Linked DNA regions of Homo sapiens. The protein of the gene in region 2 interacts with the protein of the main gene of each other region in a biochemical or structural test. Each region holds a gene or a part of one and is shown on either strand. Other genes may lie near its edges.

Region 1 (3,934 bases), on a different chromosome or scaffold from region 2:
ACCACCTTCTCAGAGGCGCGGACACCGCGCGTTGTCGCTGGATCCAGAGCTGCCCCCTTCAGGCTGTAGCCGCTGCGCAGAAGGAGCGCGCCCTGGAAATCTCCCAGTCCTCGGGGGAGCCCCAGCCTCAAAGGTCCCCAGGGCCCGTCTCAGCTCAGGCCCTGCCACCCCCGCAGCGCACCCCGCCCCTCCCCCCCCCCGCGACTCCGCACCAACATACTCTGGTTGTCTGTCTTCCCTCCCACCCCCGGAGACATCGCAGAGGAGGCTGTAGGGGTCCCCACGTGCCTGGCCAGAGATGGAAGGGGCTTTGCCCCGCTCTCCAAAAGGTCTCGACCTCGATCCCTTCCAAGTACAGGATGAGGGAAGGGAGGGGGCGTCCTCCTCTCCGGTCATTCAAGAGGCCTGAAGGTGACAGGGACTTGGGGCCGGGCTGGCGGGCTCCAGGGGGTGGCGGGTGGGGGGTGGGGAGGGAGGCAGCCGCCAGGCAGGCTCCAGCTGGGTCTTCACGTCATGGCCCCCAGGGCAAGAAAAGGGCTAAGGACTAACCCTCGAACCTTCCCGTGCCGCCCCCGCCCCCCAACAGACACACACCTCGGAGGCGAGGCTGGGGGTCGGGAGACCAAAAGACTGACAGTGCCTCATCATTTTTTATTGAATGTTTCAAAGATAAATTGAACTTCAAAAGGCAACTCCCCGAACAGCCTGGAGACGGGTTTGAAGGGGAGACTAGGGGAGGATGTCAGCCTCCTGGGTGACTTTTGCCGTGGAGGGGGTGAAATGTGCACCCTGGAATTACCTTTCCCCTTTCGGGGATAATTTCCCTCCTCCCTCGCGTGACACAGCTAAGTTTTCGCGGAGCTGGCCGCGCTTTGCACGCACAACTCGGGATGGATGGGGCCTCGTAGGGGCGCCTTGGGCCAGCCGGGTTCAATTTGAGGCACCAGGGACTGCAGGCTGTGTGGGGGGTTGCCGAGTGGAAAGGCGTTGCGTCTTGTCCACTTCTACAACCTGGAGGGTTGCTGCCTAGCCAAGCCCGCTCGGACTGCTGGGGCATTCTGCTGGCCTTTTCCCCGAGCCAAACACACTGGTGCAAGAAGGTATTTTCGACTTGGATTCGCCAGATTGATGTCAAAACTGAGGGCGAGCTTAAAACGAAAAACATTCGTACTTGCCGAGCTTACTTTTGGTCGGATTCGGGTGGGAAAACCTGACTTAGGGAGCACATCAGTCTTTTTCCATTAAAACTTAAAAGTATCTGAAATTACCCTTCTTTCTGTATTCTCATCAGGCCCCTTTCCGTCTCCCTGCTTTGCTCCCTAATTTAAAGGAAAAGTAATTTCAGATTGAAGTGGCTCCCTTCGCTCAAGTAAGGGACTTTTGTTTTTAGCTTTGTAACTTGAGTGACATCTCATTTTGGTTCGCTGGGGGCGGTCTTAATTATTTAAAGGCGAAGGGAAGGGGGTAAACTCAGAACAAGAAGATACTAAACCCTCCCCTGACTGTCCATCTTCAGGAAAGGTTCCCAAAGAAAAAACATTTAACACAAGGCCCAAAGACATTTCAATAAAAATTTATTGAAATTTCAGTGATGTTTTAAAGAGAGGGGGAAAAATACAGAAAACCAAAGAACTCATCAACAACTATAACACAAAATATACCTTCATGAATTTGTCTTTAAACCATCTCTCAGCACCTGACTTTTGAACTGTGAATATATCTCTATAGGCAGGCACCAATTCAAAACACCGATACTGACAACAGTAGTAAATTCCACTTCGTTTTGAGGAAATCAGAGACTAGCAAATACAAATAACAAAAGAAAAATTAAAAAGTCAAACCGCAGCCTCTGCCCTCCTCCCTCCCCACAGCAATCTCAGTTATATTTTAAGGAATTTGAAGTGGAGCTGGAAAGTGGCACTCCTTCCCCAATTTTGGTGAAAATAGGAAATAGCACTTTCCCCCACTTTTGGACATTAAAAAAGAAAACAAAAATGTTGCAGACAACTCTTTTGAAAGGGTATTGGTGTTGGTGCAGGAAGTGTGTTTTCTAGTGTTAACAGCAATTCTGTGACCTGGAAATAAACCCAACTAAAGGAAAACAAGAACACAAAACCTGACAGTTGCAATTCTATTTACACAGAGCTATGTACAATGTCAATAAATTAAAGTTTAATTTTCCAAGCATTCATATTCCACCTATTTACAAGAGTTATCAAATAATTACATAAATACTTTGTCTAATAGTCTCACTTCTTTATTATTTTTTTAAAACCTTGTTATTGCATATACAGGAAAGAGAAAGAACTGTCAAAGAACGACATGAATCCTGCTACAGAGCTTAGATATAATAAATTCATTTTATGTGTTTTGCCCACTCCTTCCCTTTAAATCCCCCCCTCCCTTGGGTCACTGATTTGAGGGCAAAGGATTGGGAAAAGGGTAGGGGGCTATATTGTTTTCTCTCTAAAAGCAAGCGTTCAAAATAAAAACCACAAATACATTACTGTGGACATGCAAGAAGAGACCTACAGCGGCTCTGAAAACATCACAAGAATATTAAAAAGACACAGATTTTCTTAATATAGACTAAACAAGGATGGTAGGGACTTCCCTCCCCAAACAAAGCTGCTCAGTAATTTATTGAGAACCGATAATGCAAGTCCCTATAAAGTTTTTAATCTGCACAAACAGAATCATGTTAATGTGTTCACTTGTCCCGATTTTTTTTTTGAAAGATTTTGTTTTTGTTTCCACTTGACACAGTGAAGGAAAAATATATATATAAATCCGCACTGAGGGAGATGTCTTTGAACACCTCCCCGCCTGGTGGGCAGAGACCCAGACCAGCCTTGCTGGAAGTTGCTCTGGACATAAATGTTGGAACTCCTACCCCCAGTAGCTCAATGCAACCGACGTTTCTGAGCCCCCAGAATCTGATCCAGATCCCGGACATATAAACCACGCCAAGAAGACAGGGGCTGTCTCTAGCACATTCTCTCGAGGGAGTCCGGGGCCCCTTCCCAGACGCAACTGCAAAAGGAAGGGCTAACGCCATGGCGGGCCCGTGGTTTATTTTATATCCGACAAAGTGCACGGCAGCCTGAACTGGACTGGAATGAAAAGACGTGTCTGGGACGGGTCTACGGGGACGCGCTGCGGGACCTGTCCGGCTTGGCTTCCAAGCCGCTAACCAACCGCTGGATGCTCTGCAGTTCGCTGGTGGCCGCCTCTTTCTCCGCGCAGAGTTTGGGCGACAAGGACATGGAGCTGGAGGAGAGCGTGGAGGAGCGGCTGTTGAGTTCAGAGCCCGAGTCCACTGCCACCGAGGCCGGGCTGGCGGCCAGGGCGGCGACTTTGCCGTCCAGGGGCCCCGCGGCCGCCGCCATGGAGGGCAGGGCGGTGGTGAGCAGACTGCTGCCGTCCGGGACCGGCACCGGGATGGAGTAGGGGCTGTAGCGCAGCCGCGGGCGCATGGTGTTCAGATTGAGGAAGGGGTGGCGGTGCACCGAGCTGGAGGCTGCCGCAGAGGAGGCGGCCGCCGCTGCGGCCATGTACGTGTAGGGGTAAGGGAACAGGCTTCCGAAAGGGGACATGGCCAGGCCCTGGGGTGAGAAAAGAGACACACAGCGAGTCAGCCGGGTGGGAGGAGCTTATCTCATCCCTCTCCTCTCTTCTCCCCCTCCAACATTGGGCAAGCCATGAATCCCTGGTATGTTCTGTTGTTGTTGTTGTTGTGTTTTTTTTTTTGGGGGGGGAGATAGGTGGGGGCAGGAGAGAAGTCAACACTCAGAAATCTCTAGGTACAAATCTTAGCTGTGTCACCCTAGGCCAAGAGACTTTGATTAACTTGTGCCTCAGCTTCCTTATAGGAAGAAAAAACAGGGAAATCATAAGTAATTCATATACTTATTGAGGACTTTGTAGATATTAA
Region 2 (5,223 bases):
ACAGCATGGCAAAGAGGAGTGAGCACTCTGCTAGGAGTCAGCAGATCTGGGTCACACCTGAGCCACGTATTTGCTGTGATTGTCTAGGCACGAGATGCATCATCTGGGAACTTCAACGTCTTTTCCTGTAACATCTGCACAATCAGGATAAAGCCACCCTCCCTGCCTATGTCCAGCGGTTGTGGGGAGACTTGATTGTTATAATGTCTAGGAGGGAAATTAGGCCATATCCACACACATTAAAACACACACCCCCTCTGATCTAGCAATGGCACTTGCAGTGGGCGTCTCCCACCTGAGTAAGGTCACACATGTATAAGGTCATCCACTGCAGGACTGTTTTAATAGTTCAAGTTTGGGGACAAGTTACGTATCCATCAATGGAAGATGGTAAAATAAATCTGGTATTTCCATAAGCTGGAGTATTCTGTAGCTATTACACAATGGAGCAGGTCTCTATCCTGATATGAAATCTCAGTATCAAATGATATGGCTTACATTTGGGAGCGGTTTTCCAATCACCAGTGGGCCTAACGGTCTGAATGTGAATATTCTGAACCTTTAGGAAACTGATGGAAAGGAGAAGTGCTGGCTTCCTGCTTAGCAGTTCTGTTCAAGGAGCTTTCAGTCGGCACCTATGATGCACCAGGCTCTTCTATGTAAACAATGGCTAATGAAGGAGCCTCCCTGGAATCAGATGTGGGCTCTGGTCCAGATCCTGTCACTAACTGGGCCTATGACTGTGGACAAGGCCCCTGTCATCTCCTGACTTCAAGTTTCCACCTGTAACTAGGGGTTGGGCTGGATGGTCTGAGGGTCCTTCCTGTACTAATGTCCCAGGATTCGGAGTTAGAACAAGGATCCTGGGGCTCTGGCAGTAAATACAAAATGAGCATCTTTGCTGCCTTAACGGAGGAACCCAAAGTCACCTAGAAGGGAGACCTCCTCCCTGGGGTGAGAGACATTCTATGATGACCCAGCTTTGTTCAGAGCCTTTAGTGACGCATGAATCAGTCCCTAAATCACACAAGTGTTTTTCTAAAAGACCCACAGAAAATGCCCAACCCTCTGGCTTCTCCTCTCACCAGGGCCATCAGATTAAACAGTAAATCTGTGCCTTTTAGGAATCTTCTCAGTTGGTGTTTGGTGATGAAATAAAGGAAACACACCCTCTCTGCTCCCTGCCCTGGGTGGATCTCTTATTGGAAGGGATGAGAACACAAGCTTGGCGGAGCCTGGCACACAGTAGGTTCTCAGTGAGTGCCTGTCACATAGAGGAGACTCGGCTGCCCTGAGAGGGAAGTGCTCTCTGGAGGCAGCAGGTGAGGTCTGGTCCTGTGCCTGGGCAAGTCACACTATCTGTCAGTTTCCTCATCTGTGGAATGAAAGGGCTGGGTCAGCTTTGAAGAGGCCAGGGCTACACAGCCAGGCAGATGAAGGATGCAGATGTTCCCACCCTTTACCAGCTGTGGAGCCTTCAGCAAATAGCATGACGTCTTCAGGCCTCAACTTCCCTTATTTGTAAAAGGGGGAGACATCAATTCATGGAAAGGAGCACCTACCACCACACCTGATCATTGCTCAAAGAATGGAGGGTGTTATTATTGAGTTACTGTCACAAACCAGAGGCAAAGGAGGCCCACGCTGTACTCACCGCGCACAGACAGCTCAGTGCCTGCTCCAGACTTAAACTCCACGTCATCGGGGCTCCCTTTCCGGAACTTCACACAGTAGTAGGTGCCGGCATCTGCTGGGGTGATGTTACCGATGCGGATGGAAAAGTCCATGTTGTTTCTCTTTGTGAGGTCTGAAACAGTTGTTACCCGGGGGAAGTGGCCTTCTTTTTGATTGTAGATTAATTCCCGGCCTGGTCCAGCTCCTCTGAACCACTGGATGGGCCCCACAGGGATCAGAGAGGTCGCAGTGCAGCGCAGAGTGGCTGTCTCTCCAGCTGCAACCAACACGGACTTGTCAGGCTGAATCACCTGCAGCTCCTCCTCACCCGCCACTCCTGGAAAGGAGCACAAAGCAGTCATTTTTTCATCCTTACGTGATCCTCTGTGTTTCCTCAAGTGTTTATCAATGACGTTCATTGACTGGATGCACACCAGAAGCAGGCTGTGAGATCAGTATAGTGCATGTATCATCTCATTTGACCCTCACAACAAACCTGCAACATGAGCCTGTATTCTAAGTGGGGACACTGAGGCACAGAAAGCTAAATGACATGGCAGAGAGTGGGTTTGAATGCCTGGACCCTCTCTGGAAGAGTCACATCTGAGCTGGGCTAATTCTAATCTGAATGAGCCAGAAGGGAGCCTGGTATTCCAGACAGAGGGAACAGCCTGGGCAAAGACTCAGAGGTAGGGGCCTGGCATATCTGGGGCTGTACAAGGTGTTAAGATTCTGTTTCTGGCCTGGCCCAGGATGCAGGCCCCGAGAAGGGAGGCTGTACTCAGCGGTTTGGGCAGTAGGAGAATGTAGTTTGAGTTCTGGATCAGTGGCCTATAGCTGTGTCCTTGGGCCACCACTCAGGTAACCAAGAATATCCAATGTAGACTCGTGCCAGTGTGTTTGAGTCCCCACCTGGAACCCAGGACTGAGCCTGGCTAGCAAAGTGTCACACAAATGCAAGAGCTGCCCTTAGTTTGCCCTTACTGCTCTCAGCCTTGGTTTCTTCATCTGTAAAATAGTTACTATGACCCCACCTCGATGGATCTCTGGGAGGATAAAATAAGCCAAGGCTGGGGACAGCGTCCAAATGCAGCATCTGGTCTTTAGAGTCATCGGACCTGGTTTGAAACCTGGCTCGCCCCTTGTTCTTGTGGGACCTTAATTTATCCATCAGTTTTGAGTCTCAGTTTTCTTATCTACAGGATGGGTAGAACAGCCCCCAGGCCTCTGCTTTGTTCTGAAAAGAAAACGAGATCACACATAGAAGTCACTTAGCCCTGAGATGGGCCCTGAGGAAGTTGTTGTTACTATACATTGAATAAACAAGGAGGTGGCTGTGGCTCAAACTTCACTCTCACCAACACCTGCTGATGCCCTGTGATCCAGGCCTCACTGTGATGGGGACACACTGGAGCTGGACCCAGTCCAGGCCTCAAGGGCTCCCAAATGGGCAGCTGGAAGGAATTGTAGAGGTTGGCTGCAGGAGCCTGAGCCCCAATCAGAGACACTGGGGCACACAAGACAGGGACCCTGGGTGGAGAGATTGGGGTGCACGGGGGGAGCCCAGACAGGAAGAGGGCAGGACGAGCTTGTCATGAGATGCGTTGAAGATGGATAGGGACCAAGTGAGAACAGTTCAGAGCAAGGCAGAGCCAGGGCCTCGATTCTGAACAAGGTGAGGTACAAGAAACAAAAAAAAGAAAGATCATGATCATAAAGACCTCAGAGAAACACATGCCTGAGAGACAGACGCAGAGTGAGAGAGCGAGCTAGAATAGGGGAGAAGGAGAGAACCAGGTAGACAGAGGAGTGGCAGCTACCTGGTATGCAGGTGACAGGTGACCTGGGGCCCCAGTTGGGCTCTCCACTGACCCTTCATGTGACCTTGTCCTGCCCTGACCTGGGCCACCTTTGCCTTGTACATCAGACAAGGCTGCGGCAGATGTCCAGAGCTGCTGTGCCCCTCTGGCTCTGGCTGGGGAGGAGAGAGACCCTGTGAATTTGCCCACCAACCCATGGCCTGGCACCACCCCACTGGCAGGGGCAGGGCAGCCAGGGAAAGAGGCTCACAGACCCCTATCTGCCCTCACTGCAGGAAGCCCAGGGCTATCTGCCCATTGTCCTGCCTCTTTCTCCCATTCCCAGCCTCACCCAGTCTTGACTCTGGCAAGGGATCACCCTTGGGGCCCGGTTCTCATGGCAGGTGAGTGGAGTCTCAGAGTGCCTAAGACCACTCCACCTGCTTTGGGTGTAAATATTACCATTTCGACTTCCTTTTCCTGATCAACCACTTAAGACCTCAACTGCTTTTATTATCAGGAAGTCCAGCTTCTCATTTCATTTCCATTTGAAGTTGAACATGGCAAGATCTTCATGGCACAGGAGAAAAAAACAGAACCCACAGTGGACAGACAGAACCCACAGTGGACAGAGGCCCAGCCAGCATCAGACGGCCTGAGAGGGGTGAGGCTGGTGGCCAAATGTGTGGGAGGCCCGGGAGGCCCATCCAGGCGGGGACATCAGAGGCAGCACCAGCAGCACTGAGCTAGGAACTTTCCGGATAGGTCTGTATTTCAGCCTCGAGACTGGACCAACTGGAAAGGCTGCCTCGGGGAAGCACAGTTGCTAGGGCCAGCAGGCCTGGGTGACAGCATGGCTCCCCTCTTAGCCACCTCTGTACCCACCTTCCCTGGACCCCCATTCCATCATCCATGAAGTGGGGTTCCGGCATCCACCCCAGCACAGTCATGAGGACCCTGACACGGTGGTATGCCTGCTGCATAGGTGCTGGGTAAGTTTTAATTCTTATTCCCATTATTATCACATAGCTGTATTATTCACATATTTGATTTTCTCTGGATTGTCACATTCCCAATAGTAGGATGTAGGATCCACAAGGGACTGTTTCCAACCTCCTGCCTAAAACACAGTGTCATCGATAAAAATATGCAGAATGAATGCGGTAATGAATGAAGGAAGGAAGGATGTCGTTGGCTCCATGACCCTGGGCAAATCTCCTCTCTCTTCATGTGTTAGGTGGAGTTGATACTGGCATATCCAGGGGAGGGTGCAGGCCCGGAGCCCGGGACTCAGCCTGGCTTGCAGTTATTATTATCCTTATCAATAACACCACAAGGGGCTGTGAGTCAGCAGTTGGTGAGGGAGCAGGAGGCGCAGGAGAGGCTGCGGAGTCAGGCGTGCAGCATGTTGGAGCAGGGCTATTCTTGTGGTGCAGCCGGAGGCCTGTAATCACACCCCAGGCAGGCGACAATAAAATCTGGAGTTGTGTAGCGCTGGCTCCCCCATTTTTTTTTTAGCTCCTCTCGAGCTCTCTCCACCGACTGCAGCCAGATTTAGGCGGCTTAATTAATTAGCTAGTGTTTATAAAGCGTTTGAAGAATTTTAAAAGTGCGACGTAAGTGCCAAATATTATTTTAATCTGTGTATGTGTATGTTTTTTCCAGTAGAGAGGGGTTTTTTTTTTTTTTTCCTTGCTTGCTTTCTTTTTCTCTGCAGGTTCTGTTCTGAGAATCAGGCTTGTTAAAAATC
Region 3 (5,790 bases), on a different chromosome or scaffold from region 2:
TCTGATTACCCCAGCTAGTTTCTGCTGACCTTGGTCCCTTAGATGAAGACTCGCCCACGGACCCGGAAGAGGAGGACTTGTGGCCTCCGCTGGAGCTGCCGCCGCCGTATCCGCCGCCGGAGCTGCTGCCGCCGCCGGAGCTGCCGCCCCCGTAGCCGCCGCCGCCGCCGCCGGAACTGCCACCACCGTAGCCGCCGCTGGAACTGCCGCCGTGGCCGCCGCTGGAGCTTCCGCCCCCGTAGCCGCCGCCGGAGCTTCCGCCGCCGGAGCTTCCGCCTCCGTAGCCGCCGCCGGAACTGCCGCCGTGGCCGCCGCCGTGGCCGCCGCCGGAGCTTCCGCCGCCGGAGCTTCCGCCGCCGTAGCCGCCGCCGAAACTTCCGCCGCCGCGTCCGCCGCCTCCGGAACTAAACGGGGTGAGGTCACATTCGGTTATCTCTAACGTTGGAAAACGGTGGGTAGCTTTCCAGTTGCCGTTAATTTAGAAAATAAGCAAAACGTGTTGAAAAAATAAAACCCTGCCAGGTATATATTTTAAAACCCATCCTTTGAAAACAATGTTAAGTTCACAGAACTCTTAAGAATCATTTTGGGCCAAATTCATGAGAAAGTGAGATTGCGGTTGCGTACTCCTTTTTCTGTACTCTACCCTCTCTCCTCCCTTCCTCTCATTCTCTGGCATCTTCTTGGGGTTTAGATAAGCCTTGCTATCTGGAATATTGAATAAAAGAAACTGGGATAACTTTTCATTTTAAAATTTACCTTCCCTCTCCTTCTAGCAGGCTGCGGTAGGTTTGAATTTCATTCTCCAGTCGGATCTTAATATCCAGGAGTTGTTGGTATTCAGTATTCTGGCACTCGGTTTCAGCTCGAATCTGTTGCAACTGTTCTTCCAGAGCGGATATCTGGGCCTGAATCTGTGAGAGCTGCACACAGTAGCGACCTTCTGTTTCTGCCAAGGAGGCTTCCAGGGATTGTTTCTGAAACGGATTTTTTTGTGGCTTAGTGACTTCCTTGTTCAGTTGAGTATGGTGACGCTTATTTGATTATTTAGTAAGGCATTATATAGAAGAATAAGAAAATGAACAGAATTTGTTGTATGTTTAATGGCACCATTTCAGTTTCAGCACTTTTAGATCAACACTAGTAGTACTTTTCCTCCATTAACATGAGCTTCACTTTGTTTTCTCTTTCTTACCTCCAACTCTGCATTTTTTTGTTGCATTGCATATTCTTAGGTGAGCATGAAACTTTGTATGATAAAGTTGAAGTCATTTCATGAGAGTTAACATACCAAGGCCAGTTGGGACTGTAGTTCTATCTCCAGAGCTTGTACATTACGTCTCAATTCAGTAATCTCAGATTTATAGCTGGATATCTGTTCAATGTTATTATCAATTTCTGTAGTCAGTTCCTTGCTCTAGAGTATTAAAAACAAGGAAAAGGGTGAGGAAATTCTGAAATGATAAAACCTCCATGAGTTTCACTATAAGGAAGATTACTTTACCTTTTCATTGAACCAGGCTTCAGCATCTTTGCGGTTTTGTTCAGCAAGTTGTTCATATTGGCTTCTCATGTTATTCAGAAGTTGAGTCAGATCAACACCCGGGGCAGCATTCATTTCCACATTCACATCACCAGTGGACACATTTCGAAGGTCTTTCATTTCCTGTTTGAGGAACAGAAAGATTTATTGGCTACACGAGGACCATAATGAACTCTCTTTTGGCTGGGAAAAGTATAACTTTTGTGTCACCTCCTCGTGGTTCTTCTTCAGATAGGCCAGCTCTTCAGTCAGGCTCTCAATTTGCATCTCCAGGTCAGCCTTGGTCAGGGTCAGCTCATCCAGCACCCTACGCAGGCCGTTGATGTCAGCCTCCACGCTCTGGCGCAGAGCTACCTCATTCTCATACCTGAAACAAGCATGATATCAATACTGGTTATAACTTATATAGGGGAGATGTATCTGGGCAGAGACTATTTAAAAAGCAGCTACATAGTTGATCTCATGTAATGGCAATATTTGTCATGTACAGTTCTCTTAGAAGTAATAGTGGTTTAATGGAAAAAACCTTAGCAGTTACTTTAAAATGCATTTTCTTCCTTTAATATTGCCAAAAAGGTAACACTGACATGGAAAATTTCTCAGATAACTCCAATACTATTTAACTTTGGGTGAATTCAGAAAAATGTAAATGTTATTGAGGGCATCCCAAGTCATTGTTAAAAACCACTGATGTATTCGTTGTGATAGTATTATACAACGATCACTTAACTTACTTCAGCCTGAAGTCATCAGCTGCCAGCCTGGCATTGTCGATCTGAAGCAGGATGTTGGCATTATCAGTTGTTAGGTTGAGAATCTGGAGGGAGAGGCACAGTTATTTGAGAAGAGGTCAGATGCAGATATGGCTTTTGTAGTGACATAGATGCACTCTGCACTTTTATGTTGTTCTCTTACAAAATCTTGGGAAAATTTTTTATTTTAAATATGAAATATTGCAGGCTTACCCATATACTTAACTTTGAATTATTTGTTCTCTTGGAATTTCTCCAGTCTTGTATTTCTGTACACGAATTATTCCTTTCTGAAAACTAACTGGAATTATATAGATGTATTCCTGTAAGTGTGCCCTCCTCTTTTAGACTATGTGATTTCCATGTATTTCAGCCATGCTTTGGCTGACTCACACCTGCATTTGTTTAACTCATGATAAATACTAATAAATAAATACACTCTGAACTGGTACACAATAGGTACAATTCAGAAATTCCTTAGAGGCAAGCAGTGTCCCATTTTCATACTGGAAAATTTATTTTTCTTGCCATGTTGGTACTGAATATGGCTTGTTATCAGTCTGAATAACATTTTGTTCTGATTCATATCATGATTTTTTTTTTCAGTTTCTACATTTGTAAATAGCCTAGCATATTTTAACTGTGGACTCATTGTATGCTCATTAAAACCTCAAAAGTGCTTAGTAAATCTCCCATCCTCTTAAGACAAGTAGCACACTTGCTGGATGAAGATTGCCATGACCATAGTTTCACAGATGTTTATCTTTGATGAGACTGGGTTATTTTTGAAGGAAGAAAGTAACATGGGTAAGCATAGTGAACAGCCACATTGTGCTTAATTTAAGATTCATCTGTCTGGATTACATGGACAAGATACTTAAAGCTGGATTTAAAAATACCTCTTACCTGATTTTTAAGGTCATCGATGGTTTTGTAGTATTTGCTGTAGTCACGAGGCTCCCCCTGATGTGAGTTGCCATGCTTTTCATACCACTCCTTGATTTTGCCTTCCAGCTCATAGTTTGATTCTTCCAGAGCCCGAACTTTGTCCAAGTAGGAAGCCAGGCGGTCATTCAGATTCTGCATGGTTACTTTTTCATTTCCAGAGAGAAGGCCACCATCTCCTCCAAATCCACCACCAAAGCCTCCTCCAAAGCCGCCTCCACCAAAGCCGCCTCCACCAAAGCTGCCCCCACCAAAGCTGCCACCTCCGAAACTGCCCCCTCCAAAGATGCCTCCATAACTCCCACCAAAGCTGCTACTTCCATAGCTTCCACGAAAGCTACCTCCACCAAAACCTCCTAATCCTCCATAGCCACCTGATGAGCCCCCAAAGCAGCCCCCACCAGAGCTCCCACGGCTAAAAGAGCCACCACTGAACCCCCCTGAGCTAAATCCTCCACCAAGGGAGCCTTTGCTGCTAGAAATTCTTAGGGATGACACTCCTCCTCCTCCTCCACATCCTCCTCCTCCTCCTCCTCCTCCACTGCGGGAGGAAGAGTAGTGCTTGCTTGAGCTGTATCGAACAGACATGGTGATGCTGTTTAGCCCAGGGAGTGCCTGCTACCAAGGACAGTGACAAGCCTTTATATACTGAGAGGGTGTGTCCACATGTGTTAGAGTTTGCTTACTTACATTGTTTTCTTTTTGCCAACTTAGCATCTTTGGCTTATGATTGCATAAATTATCTTCAGTAATAACCAATCCTAATATGTACAATTTTGAATTTGCCCTAAGAATAAACAGGAGGTTTGCTATGTTGAAATTGAAAATGGGTGGAGTTCAGATGAGCATGTTTTATTATGCTTTTCACCTGTTGAAGAACATTGAGCAACCGTTAAGATCCATTTTTCTCAGCACTAATTCAGGTTGCATAGAATGTTTGCAAAGTTTAGAAAAAAAAGTTTCAGCTACAAAATTATAGTTAAAATAAGATTTTTCAAATTCATGTTTTAAACAGTTTTAATTGGAGCAACAAATAGCATAAAGTCTGGCAGGATCATGCTACAATAAGGTTCTTGTAGACAACTGTAGGGAATCAAAAAGAAAAAGTTTCTAAAAATTTAACTAGCATCAATAGTTGCCACACATAAAACATTAAAGCCATAAAACCACAATTTAGGAGATTGTGTTTGTAGGAGATCTTTTAATTTATTTGGCAAATGAGAGTATATTGATATTTTGCCTAAGAAAGTGGAAGTAATGATTTTAGAATTTTCTAATTAATGATGGCATTATTTTTAACATTAAAAAATCTGAAATCATAAAGTTATCCTGGATTATTTTGCACTTTTAAATTCATCATAGTTAAGGTTTCTGTGAAGACCATAATAATGCAGAAAATCTGCATTATTTTCTTAGCATGAAATCCGAAGAACTAACTTGTAGTACTTTACACTAAGTTCTGATTGAGTAAAAAGGGAAAATTTGGATATGTTATGATTGCAAGTAAAAATTTGCTTGCAAAAATGTAAATCTATATTAGAGAATGATACTTGCACCAAATATTATGAACTAGACTGTGCACATGTGTTCCCAAGCTAGGTTCAGTTTCTCAATAAAAACAACACATTTTCTTGGATATACTGTGTACAGAATTTGGTATAACAGTTTGTCTAGTGAAGTAAATTGGGATTTTGGTACATTGTATAAGATTATATCTACCCATAGGCTATGACATTGCTGTTGTTTGGATGTATATATTCATACATGTTTTACAATTATGTAGTGCTGTTTGTGATACTGTGCTTTAAAAATTTCTAGAACAAGCTGTTGAGATAGGAATGGTGGTTATTATTATTTCTTTTCTTTCTTTCTTTCTTTCTTTCTTTTTTTTTTTTTAGACGGAGGCTTGCTCTGTCGCCCAGGCTGGAGTGCAGTGGCGCCATCTCGGCTCACTGCAAGCTCCACCTCCCGGGTTCACGCCATTCTCCTGCCTCAGCCTCCCGAGTAGCTGGGGCTACAGGTGTGTGCCACCATACCTGGCTAATTTTTTGTCTTTTTGGTAGAGACAGGGTTTCATCATGTTAGCCAGGATGGTCTCAATCTCCTGACCTCTTGATCTGCCTGCCTTGGCCTCCCAAAGTGCTGGGGTTACAGGTGTGGTTATTGTTATTTCTAATTTATAGAAGAGGAAGTTGAAGTTGAGAGGTTGTGATTTTTTCCTGAAGATATGTAACAGGTGGTTGAACTGCAATTAGAAGCTTGGTCTTTTAACTCCTTGGTTCTTTTCCACTTTACCAATGTGTATATATATTATCTGCTCCAGTGGATTTGGTCTAATGGAGATGAATGACTCTAATTCTCACCGTAAACTTCTCCAAATGGGGAAAAAGAGCAAAACAAAAAGAACTTAGAATCATGAAAATATTCAAAGGGTAATGATTTGGCACACACTCTACCTTTAGTAATTGTTTTTTCAAATTAAGTTTATTGCTGCACATTTTGGTTTATGAAAACTACAGAAATAGTTTCTGTAGGGAAGGGAGTGTGGTT
Region 4 (5,223 bases), on a different chromosome or scaffold from region 2:
ATTCTCCTGCCTTAGCCTCCTGAGCAGCTGGGACTACAGGCACACACCACTGCACACAGCTAATTTTTATATTTTTTGTAGAGATGGGGTTTCACCATGTTGCCCACGCTGGTCTCGAATGCCTGAGCCCAAGTGATCCTCCCACCTCAGTCTCCCAAAGTGCTGGGATTACAGGCATGAGCCACTGTGCCCAGTCATAAATTTCTGCCTTTTATAAGGTCACCAATCATGTTGGATTAGGGCCCACAGTAATGACCTCATCTTAACCTGATTCCCTCTGTAAAGACCTAGTCTCCAAATCAGGTCACATTCTGAGGTACTGGGGCTTAGGACTTCAACATAGAAACTTAGGAGCGTGCAATTTAACCCCTAAGATTGGTTGATGCTTTATCAAAAATTTTGATGTTTTTCTTTTGTTTGTATGTATGTATTTATTTTATTTATTTATTTTTCAGACGGAGTCTCACTCTGTCACCAGGCTGGTGCAGTGGCGTGATCTCGGCTCACTGCAACCTCCGCCTCCCAGGTTCCAGTGATTCCCCTGCCTCAGCCTCCCAAGTAGCTGGGGCTACAGGTGCGCACCACCATGCCCAGCTAATTTTTTATGTTTTTATTAGAGATGGGGTTTCACCATGTTGGCCAGGATGGTCTCAATCTCTTGATCTTGTGATCCGCCCCCCTTGGCCTCCCAAAGTGCTGGGATTACAGGCGTGAGCCACCGCACCCAGCCTTGTTTGTTTTTTTTAAAGAGTGGTTGAGGCTGGGCGTGGTGGCTCACACCTGTAATCACAACACTTTGGGAGGCCGAGGTGGGTGGATCACCTGAGGTCAGGAGTTCAAGACCAGCCTGGCCAACATGGTGAAACCCTGTTTCTGTTTCTACTAAAAATACAAAAATTAGCCGAGTGTGGTGGCATGCACCTGTAGTCCCAGTTACTCGGGGCTGAGGCAGGAGGATTGCTTGAGCCTGGGAGGCGGAGGTTGCAGCGAGCCGAGATCCTGCCACTGCAGAGTGAAACCCTGTCTCAAAAAAAAAAAAAAAGAAGGAAAAGAAAAAAAGAAATGGTTGAGTGTCATGGTTTTTGGATGTCCAATGGCTGGTTCCCATCCTTGCTCTGCCACTTGCTAGCTGGTACCCTAGACCAGTCACAACCCCTCAAGGGGTCTCAGTTTTCACATTCATAAAATGGGGATAATCATAAAACCCTTGTTGTCAGGATTTTGTGGAAAGTGAATGAATTAATACAGTTAAAGTGCTTAGGGCATGGCCTGGCATCTAGTAAGTAGGCACTACATGTTAGTTTTTATTATGGTTATTATTGTAAGCATCAGACTCAGTCGTGGGATCACCTCCTCCAGGAAGCCTTCCCTGATTGCCCCAGGTTCAAGCTGTCTTCTGGGCTTCCCTAGTGCTGTCCGTGACTTCTTTGGATCATGTCTGGCCCAAGATGGGGGTTCTGAAAGAACATGCCCTCAGGTGTTGGACTCTTCCCTCTCTTCCAGATGTACAGGTGGATCATCTGAATCTCCTGAAACAGTTTGAACACCTGGACCCTCAGAACCAGCATACATTCGAGGCCCGCGACCTGGAGCTGCTGATCCAGACGGTAATGGGAGTGGGTCCGGAGGCAGAGGATTGAGGGTAGCTTTGCGGAAGGGGAGAAGGGGACAGAGTCCCAGACGTGAGCCAGCTCACCATTCCTGCTGGTGTTCTCTGAGGTTGGAGGCTGGTAGAGGGCTGAGTCGTTTCTTTTCTTTTCTTTTTTTTTTTTTTTTTGAGACGAAATCTCGCTGTTTTCCCCCAGGCTGGAGTGCAATGGCACAATCTCGGCTCACTGCAACCTCCGCCTCCCGGGTTCAAGCGATTCTCCTGCCTCAGCCTCCCGAGTAGCTAGGATTACAGGTGCCTGCCGTCACGCCCAGAAAATTTTTGTATTTTTAGTAGAGACAGGGTTTCACCATGTTGGCCAGGCTGGTCTCGAACTCCTGACCTCAGGTGATCCACCCGCCTCAGCCTCCCAAAGTGCTGGGATTACAAGTGTCAGCCACCGCACCCAGCTCTTCTTATAGTGATACCCACCGTAATCTAGCAGGCCATCATCTTAACTAATTACATCTGCAAACACTCTATTTCCAAATAAGATCACATTCTGAGATTCCAGGTGGACATGAATTTGGGAGTGTGGGGGGAGTATACTGTTCAACCTGGTATTGTTAACTCCATTTTACAGAGGTGGAAACTGAGGCACAAAGAGGCTGAGTAACTTGCCCAGTGTCACAGAGCTTATGAGATTTGGTCACAAAGCAAAGCCTAGATTTGAACGCTGGGCAAAATAGTTAGAAACCTCTTGTTCTTTTTTTGGTTTATTTTTACTTTTTTTTTTTTTTTTTTTACCTGAGACAGCGTCTTGCTCTGATGCCCAGGCTGGAGTGCAGTGGCATGATCACAGCTCACTGCAGCCTCAACCTCCTGGGCTCAAGCAATCCTCCCACCTGACCCTCCTGAGTAGCTGGGACCAGAGGTGCAAGCCACCGCACCAGGCTAATTTTAAAAATTTTTAGTAGACACAAGGTCTCGCTGTGTTATGTGAGTTAGTCTTGAACTCCCGGGCTCGAGTGATCCTCCCACCCTAGCCTCCCAAAGTGCTAGGATTCCAGGCGTGACCCACCTCTCCTAGTCTGACCTTATGTTCTTGGCCACCTAGCTGTACCTGAAATACATAAATACTAAGTTCACCACATATGTTGTTCCTATTTACTTATTCCTCCAAGATCTGGAGATTGTGGAGGACTTGAAAGAGGTGGGTTGAAGTTGCTATTGTATAACCGTCCCAATCTGTTTTGAATAAAGAGAAGAAAGTGTGTTATGGGGCAGGAGCAGTCATGGAAACCAAAAAGGGCGACATCAGGCTGTGCGCGATGGCTCACGCCTATAATCCCAGCACTTTGGGAGGCTGACGTGGGCGGATCACCTGAGGTCAGGAGTTTGAGACCAGCCTGGCCAACATGGTGAAACCTCGTTTCTACTAAAAATACAAAAATCAGCTGGGCCTGGTGACACATGCCTATAATCCCAGCTACTCGAAAGGCCGAGGCAGGAGAATCACTTGAACCCGGAAGACAGAGGTTGAAGTGAGGCAGTGAGCAGAGATTGTGCCACCGCACTCCAGCCTGGGCAACAGAGCAAGACTCCCTCTCAAAAAAAAAAAAAAAAAAAGGGACATTAGGACACGAGACGTAAGAAAGACAGGTAGAGGCTGGGGCTGCCCTCAGCCAGGTTCAGGGCCAAGGGCCTGCCATTTACAGGCTGGAATTGGGGGCTGGGCAGAGGGGGCAGAGGGGAATGACCCTGTGCCTTTCCCCAGGCCACCCGGGACCTTGCCCAGTACGACGCAGCCCATCATGAAGAGTTCAAGCGCTACGAGATGCTTAAGGAACACGAGAGACGGCGTTATCTGGAGTCACTGGGAGAGGAGCAGAGAAAGGAGGCGGAGAGGAAGCTGGAAGAGCAACAGCGCCGGCACCGCGAGCACCCTAAAGTCAACGTGCCTGTGAGGACCCCATTTGTGCCCATCCACTCCCTACCACATCCAGTTCAAACGCAAGACAAGAAAGCAGTTAAAGAACTACAATTCCCAGGGGCCCTTGAGGCAAAAAAACTCCCTGTTACTGTACCTGGCTGCCCCAGGGTCTGCTGGGAGTTGTAGTTTTCTTAGTTTTCTTGCTTGAGGGAGATGATGTTTGTTGGATGAGGGTAAAGGGATATTTGGTTTTATCCCATGGCATCCAGACTTCTTGCTCATGAGCTCCTGGCTCTCCCCTCCACAGGGCAGCCAAGCCCAGTTGAAGGAGGTGTGGGAGGAGCTGGATGGACTGGACCCCAACAGGTTTAACCCCAAGACCTTCTTCATACTGCATGGTAAGGTGGGGAGGGAGTTCCAGAGCCAGGATGAACCCTAGATTCTGACCCTTCTAGGACCTGAATGCTAAGAGGGGTGTGTCTGTCCCAGGAGGGCTTAGTCAGGCCCAAGAGCCAAGCCTATGTCCCCTGGTTGACCAGACAGCCCTGCCTCTCCCGACTACAAGGCTAGGATCTGCATGGAAGGGTTGGGCCTCTTTTCTAGCAAACACCAGACCTCGGGGTTCTAAGGACAGCTGGTGTCCTCTGTAAGCAAACCAGGCTTGGCTAGGCCTGGGCCCTCTGCCCACAGCAGCCCAGGAGAAGCCCTGGTCCACTCTGGGAACCCTGTCGCTAGGAGTGGGTTGTTCCCTAAGAACCAGGCCTCCAGAAGCCTGGAAAACCCTTTCTCTTTTTCTTTTTCCTTTTTTTTTTTTTTTTTGAGATGGAGTCTTGCTCTGTTGCCCAGGCTGGAGTGCAGTGGCATGACCTCGGCTCACTGCAACCCCCTGCCCTCCGCCTCCCGGGTTCAAGTGATTCTCCTGCCTCAGCCTCCCGAGTAGCTGGGATTACAGGCATGCACCACCATGCCCGGCTAACTTTTGTATTTTTAGTAGAGATGGGGTTTCACCATGTTGGCCAGGCTGGTCTCGAACTCCCAACCTCGTGTGATCTGCCCCCTCAGCATCCCAAAGTGCTAGGATTACAGGCGTGAGTCACTGCGCCCGGCCTCGAAAGCCCTTTCTCTATGGTGGATCAAAGGCACACTCCCCTCAGTCTGTCTCTTCCTGTCTGGAAATGTGGCCTGGGGTTGCCAAGCCCCCTCAGGTATGCCAAGCACCCTGTCCCAGAATCTGTAGCCGGTCAGATAAGCTTAGCAAGGCCTGACTCATTCATTCAGCAAACCTTTCCTAAGTTCCCTCTAAGGACCAAGCTTTGTCAAGACCCCGTGGATACAACTGTAAACAAAACAAAGTACCTCCCCCTCAGAGCCAGTGATCAGGCACACAGATCATACCATACTTTAGTAACTCCACGAGACTGTACAGTATGAGAGGTGCTAGCATTTTACGTAAGCTGCCAATTAAATTAACGTACCATTGAAAACAAGATGCGTCCTGGGCTGGGTGTAGTGGCTCATGTCTGTAATCCCAGCACTTTGGTAGGCCAAGGTGGAAGATGGCTTGAGCCCAGGAATTTAAGACCAGCCTGGACAACAAAGTGAGACCCTGTCTCTATTTAAAAAAAAAAAATAGACCAGGCGTGGTGGCTCACGCCTATAATCCCAGCATTTTGGGAGGTTGAGGTGGGAGGATCACCTGAGG

Evidence for each region. Proteins that work in one complex are often made in the same cells at the same time.
Region 1: the proteins of SIRPA (region 2) and TBX3 form a complex in vitro, tested with the Homo sapiens proteins (one large-scale study listed by BioGRID).
Region 3: the proteins of SIRPA (region 2) and KRT10 form a complex in vitro, tested with the Homo sapiens proteins (one large-scale study listed by BioGRID).
Region 4: the proteins of SIRPA (region 2) and NUCB1 form a complex in vitro, tested with the Homo sapiens proteins (one large-scale study listed by BioGRID).

Annotation. Positions count from the first base shown.
Region 1 is NC_000012.12:114,668,698-114,672,631, forward strand, and holds the end of TBX3 (T-box transcription factor TBX3), read right to left. Parts: intron 3,606-3,934; coding exon 3,144-3,605; 3' UTR 1,558-3,143; downstream 1-1,557.
Region 2 is NC_000020.11:1,911,887-1,917,109, reverse strand, and holds part of SIRPA (tyrosine-protein phosphatase non-receptor type substrate 1 isoform 1 precursor), read right to left. Parts: exon of another isoform or gene 2,788-5,223; coding exon of another isoform or gene 2,709-2,787; intron 2,012-2,708; coding exon 1,655-2,011; intron 1-1,654. UniProt on the Homo sapiens protein: Immunoglobulin-like cell surface receptor for CD47. Acts as docking protein and induces translocation of PTPN6, PTPN11 and other binding partners from the cytosol to the plasma membrane.
Region 3 is NC_000017.11:40,818,758-40,824,547, forward strand, and holds the start of KRT10 (keratin, type I cytoskeletal 10), read right to left. Parts: upstream 3,858-5,790; 5' UTR 3,829-3,857; coding exon 3,202-3,828; intron 2,361-3,201; coding exon 2,278-2,360; intron 1,911-2,277; coding exon 1,754-1,910; intron 1,667-1,753; coding exon 1,505-1,666; intron 1,418-1,504; coding exon 1,292-1,417; intron 978-1,291; coding exon 760-977; intron 523-759; exon of another isoform or gene 405-522; coding exon 30-404; coding exon of another isoform or gene 10-29; intron 1-9. UniProt on the Homo sapiens protein: Plays a role in the establishment of the epidermal barrier on plantar skin.
Region 4 is NC_000019.10:48,909,646-48,914,868, forward strand, and holds part of NUCB1 (nucleobindin-1 precursor), read left to right. Parts: intron 1-1,284; exon of another isoform or gene 1,285-1,503; coding exon 1,504-1,607; intron 1,608-3,365; coding exon 3,366-3,551; intron 3,552-3,828; coding exon 3,829-3,919; intron 3,920-5,223. UniProt on the Homo sapiens protein: Major calcium-binding protein of the Golgi which may have a role in calcium homeostasis. Acts as a non-receptor guanine nucleotide exchange factor which binds to and activates alpha subunits of guanine nucleotide-binding proteins (G proteins).